Linked DNA regions of Homo sapiens: region 2 is linked to region 1. Evidence: fine-mapped expression QTL. Tissue or cell type: skin. Region 1 holds a variant in brackets; the other region holds the start of a gene. All regions are shown on one strand. Distances are from middle to middle.

Evidence for each region. PIP is the estimated chance that this variant, and not a neighbour inherited with it, causes the effect.
Region 2: it holds the start of PRICKLE2, and the variant in region 1 is fine-mapped to the expression of PRICKLE2 in skin (TwinsUK, PIP 0.95).

What each region holds. Positions count from the first base shown.
Region 1 is chr3:64,113,925-64,116,685 of GRCh38, reverse strand. The region is part of intron 7 of PRICKLE2 (prickle planar cell polarity protein 2); the gene reads left to right. Among named protein-coding and RNA genes, the nearest start is that of PRICKLE2-AS2, 12 kb to the right of the region's middle. The variant T/A (reference allele first, on the strand shown) is at 1,175.
Region 2 is chr3:64,223,918-64,226,542 of GRCh38, reverse strand. It overlaps PRICKLE2 (prickle planar cell polarity protein 2), which reads left to right and starts at 1,077. Exons shown (of 8, transcript NM_198859.4): 1 at 1,077-1,633. RefSeq lists a silencer at 896-1,190.

The DNA of each region.
Region 1 (2,761 bases):
CAGAGCTCATTATTGGTCTGTTCAGGGATTCAATTTCTTCCTGGTTCATTCTTGGAAGGGTGTATGTGTCCAGACATTTATCCATTTCTCCTAGATTTTCTAGTTTATGTACATAGAGGTGTTCATAATATTCTCTGATGGTTGTTTATATTTCTGTAGGGTAAGTGATAATATCCTTCTTGTCATTTCTGATTGTGTTTATTTTAATCTTCTCTCTTTTCTTATTAGTCTAGCTAGTGGTCTATCTATTTTATTATTTTTTTCAAGAAAACCAGCTCCTGGATTCATTGATCTTTTGAATGGCTTTTTTGTGTCTCAGTCTCCTTCAGTTCAGCCCTAATTTTGATTATTTTGTGTCTTCGGCTAGTTTTGGGATTTCTTTGCACTTGATTCTCTAGTTCTTTTAGTTTTTATATTAAGTTGTTAACTTGAGATCTTTCTAACTTTTTGATGTGAACATTTCAGTGCTATAAGTTTCCTGCTTAACACTGCCTTAGCTGCATCCCAAAGATTCTGATATGTTGTATCTTTGTTGTCATTACTTTCTAAGTACTTCTTCATTTCTGCCTTAATTTCATTATTTACCCAAAAGTCATTCAGCAGCAGGTTATCCAATTTCCATGTAATTGTATGGTTTTGAGTGAATTTCTTAGTCTTGATTTCTAATTTGATTGTGCTGTGGTCTGAGAGATTGTTTGTTATGATTTCAGTTCTTTTGCATTTGATGAGGAGAATTTTACTTCTGATTGTGTGATCTATTTTAGAATATATGCCATGTGGTGATGAGAAGAATGTGTATTCTGTTTTTTTGGGTGGAGAGTTCTATAGATATCTATCAGGTCTGCTTGATCCAGAGCGGAGTTCAGGTCCTGAACATCTTTGTTAATTTTTTCTTGATGATCTGTCTAATATTGTCAGTGGGGCTGTAAATCCTGCCACTATTATTGTGTGGGAGTCTAAATCTCTTTGAAGGTCTCTAAGAACTTGCTTTTTGAATCTGGGTGCTCCTGTGTTGGGAACATATATATTTAGGATAGTGAGATTTTCTTGCTGAATTCCACCCTTTACCATTACATAATGCCCTTCTTTGTCTTTTTTGATCTTTGTTGGCTTAAACTCTGTTTTGTCAGAAACTAGGATTGCAACTCCTGCTTTTTTCTGTTTTCCATTTGCT[T/A]GGTAGGTTTTTCTCTATCTCTTTATTTTGAGCCTGTGTGTGTCTGCATGGGAGATGGGTCTCTTGAAGACAGCATAATAATGGGTCTTGGTTCTTCATGCAGCTTGCCACACTGTGTCTTTTAATTGGGTCATTCAGCCCATTTACATTTAAGGTTAGTACTGATATGTGTAGATTTAATCCTGTCATCATTATGTTAGCTGGTTATTTTGCAAACTTGTTTATGTAGTTTCTTTACAGTGACACTGGTCTGGGTACTTCAGTGTGTTTTTACAGAGGCTGGTAATGGTCTTTCCTTTGCAAATTAAGTACTTCCTTCAGGAGCTCTTGTAAGGCAGGTCTAGTGGGAACAAATTCCCTCAGCATTTGCTTGTCTGAAAAGGATCTTATTTCTCCTTTGCTTATGAATCTTAGTTTGGCCGGATATGAAATTCTGGGTTGGAATTTCTTTTCTTTAAGAATGTTGAATATTGGCCCCCATTCTTTTCTGGCTTACAGGGTTTCAGCTGAGAAGTCTGCTGTCAGTCTGATGGGCTTCCTTTTGTAGATGACCTGATCTTTCCCTCTAGCTGCCTTTAACATTTTTTTCTTTTATTTTGACCTCAGAAAATCTTATGATTATGTGTACTGGGGATAATCTTCTTTTGAAGTATCTTAAGAATGTTGGCCTCTCTAGCTAGGTTGGGGAAGTTCTCATGAATGATATCTTGAAGTATGTTTACTAAGTTGGTTCCATTCTCCCCATCTCTTTCAAGGACACCAATCAGTCATAGATTTGGTCCCTTTACATAATCCCATATTTCTCAAAGGTTTTGTTTATTCCTTTTCATTCTTTTTTTTTTCTATTCTTGTCTGCCTGTCTTATTTCAAAAAGCCAGTCTTCAAGCTCTGAGATTCTTTTCTCCAGTTACTCTATTCTATTAATACTTGTGATTGTGTTGTGAAATTCTTGTAATGGGTTTTTTTAGCTCTCTAAGGTCAGTTATGTTTTTCTCTATATTGGCTATTTTGTCTGTCAGCTCCTGCATTGTTTTATCATCATTTTTAGCTTCCTTGCATTGGGTTTCAGTGTACTGAGCTCAATGATCTTCATTCCTATCCATATTCTGAATTTCATTTCTGTTATTTTAGCTATCTTAGCCTCAGCCCAGTTATGATTCCTTGCTGGAAAGGTGATGCGGTTGTTTGGAGGAAAGAAGGCACTCTGGCTTTTCGTATTTTCAGCATTCTTGCCCTGATTCTTTCTCAAATTTGTGGGCTTATCTACCTTCAATCTTTGAGGTTGCTGACCTTTGCATGGTTTTTTTTTTTTTCTTAATCCTATTTGATGACTTTGAGGGTTTGATTTTGGTATGAGATGGATTCAGCTGACTGGCTTCATTTTGGGGAGATTTTAGGGGGCCAACACCCAGCTCCCAACTGCTAGACTGTGCTCTTACTCTGGGGGACTTGTATTGGGCCCCAGCTTTGTTATCTGGCTCTGCGACATTTGGAGTCCACTGCACTGGAGGTGCCAAGGTGTGGCAGCTGTAACAGTGCTAGCAGATGCAGGGGTGCCTACCTCCCTGTGGGTGTTCACCACAATGA
Region 2 (2,625 bases), 110 kb before region 1:
CAGAGACTGTGTTTATACCTAGCCTTTAGAGCTGTGCATGGCATAGAGTACGTGCTTAGTAAATATTTATTGAATGAGTGAATGGTACAGATGAGGTTATTGAAGATCCCACAAGTTAAGTTACTTGCCTAAGATCACACTGCTAGCAGGAAGGAAAGGCAGGATTTGAACACAGGGCTCTCCAAATGTATAGATTCCTTTCTTCCAGATTGCTTGGTTAGGCCGCCTAGTGGTGTATAAAAATGGAGCTCGGAGACCCCAAAGGTATTCAACAAAAGCTCTATCTGAGGTCTAGGAAATGTGGATTCTGACCCATCCTTGCTGAAATCCTGGTGTGACTTTAGAAAAGTCCTTTCTCCAGTTGTCTCCATTTTCTAATCTGTAAAATGAGGAGATGGAAGCAATGCTCTCTGAGGGTCTCAGGGTCTTCAGATGCCCTGGGAAGGTTTATGCTTTGTCTTCTTCTGCATGCAGTTGGAATTGGGGTAAGGGGTTAAAGGGCAGCTGACTGACTCACCACCCAAGCACGTGAGGAAAGGAGTCACTTGTGCTTTATTTCGAGGTGCACAAAAACTCAAAGGTGACATAGTCTCAGGCCAAAAAACAAGCAACACCCGAAAATGAAAGTTGAAGAGAGAAGAGAAAGAAAAAAAAAAAGGAGAGGCATTTTTGAAGGCTTGACACAGCATTTAATTAAAAAAAGAGTGCTCTGATTCCACTCCTAGGTTGGTGCAGCATATAATCTGAAACAGGCGCTCAGGTTGATAATTGTGCCCAGATCTGAACCTTGGCACCTAAGAGCACAGCTTTTAAGAAGAAAAAAAATAGGCATGTGTCTTTAAAGCCTCTCTTCTTATATGTGATTTTTTTCATGCTCATTTGGAGGTTACGTAGCTGGGCCTTTGCATCCAGCAAAGGCTTCCTTCCCCTCTCCCTGGCTTGGGGATTATTGATTTGGAAGGCAAGGCTAATTTACATGTAAATAAATCTCAGCACTGGGCAGCAGGATGGGACGTCCAGATGCCGTGACTGACTTGCTGACATCACAGCTTCATTAGCATGCGGAGGATGCAAGCACTGCAACAGCGACTTCTCAGGCACCACCAGCAGCGCCACCGAGAGTTATTATTATTTTTTGACCAAGCAGCACATTTCCTGGTTCAGTGGCTTGAGCTCTGTGAGCAGCTGACTAGTCACCCCGGGTCTGGCTCAGGATCAGCTGGTGACGCTGGGCTGGAGTCTATGACTTCTTCCTTCAGATTGTCATGAAGAAGGGGAGTTAAGAGGAAACTGGGGGTCCTCCGGAAGGCGATCTGAGCACTCAGGCTGATCTAGAGGAAGAGTAGAAGTCATACTTTTTTTCTCTTGCTTGGTGAATTCCCCAGCAGAGTCTGGATCCAGCAGTGCTGTTTTCCCTGAGGGAATGTGGAGCAGCTCGGCTTGAGTCTGTTGCCAGCTTCAGGAAGGGTTCAGACTGAAAAGGGGGTTTGAGGAGAAGATGCTTTGGCTGCCTGAGGTCCTGCTTGCGTTCTTAGAAGTCAGATCCAGGGAGAAAGTGAACTGGGACAATTGACAAGCTCCAAGGGTCTGGCAGAAGCTTCCTCCGAGACTGGGCATTTCATCCTCCCTGGAGGTGGGTAAGAAATTTGCTCTAATTCACAAATTAAACAGCAGTATATTTTCTAAGGAGGATGAGAAAGCCAGATCTAGGGCCTTTGCACTGGGGGAGGATATTGGGTCTTCGTTTTCTTGGCCAGGTAGCATTTTTGGTGGCCCTGCGACCCCTTTTGCCTTTTCTATGCTGATTAGAAAGCTCGATTACAAAGTGTTATGTCACAGCTCTAGGGAGTCCTGAAGAAACGCTTAAATCTTGATGCTTAAGAAGAAGCAGCGTTTCTCTAAAAGTGTAGCTTTCTTTAAAAAACCATAATAATATGGGGAAAGGGGCTAACAGACCAAATACCTGATAGCGTTCATGTACAGTAGTCATTTCAACACATGATGTCAGAAACCATTAGGGGATCTGAGGAACAAGGACTCAGCTGAGACTTCCAGGTAAAGAAATGGCTTTCAAATTATTTAGGTTTAATTTTAGACACTGCTTTCAGATTAGAAATGGTGACAGAGCTTCAGAATATGACTGCATAGCCTGGCTGAACACATGATTCGGTTTGCCCTCTATGCTGGGTTTCTTGAGGGAGTGATCATAGTTAGTTCTCCTCACTCTTGGCTTCTCGAAAACCAATCATAGCATTACTAATTTGCCATGGGGGTCTTGCAATGAAATACAGATTTTTAATCCCATGGTTTTTTGTTATGTGGTCTTGGACTATGCTGGGGTCCAGTGGGACTTTTATGAATCATAAATAATCCAGGCTGGGCCAAATCACACTGAGGTTAGCGATCCATACCAGATGTGATGCCATCCGCTGGTCCAAATGTGGCTCTTGTCTAACTTAGGCACATAGATTATTTCCCCAGTGAGAGAGTTCTGCTTCCCATATCAATGCATGTATGAGCACAGTCAGGGGAGGGCTCCAGTGTGCCATGAATATGTAGACATAGACTGCCGTGTACTGAATCTGCAGCTGGTAAGGCTGTGATTTGCTTTGCCTGCACATCTCT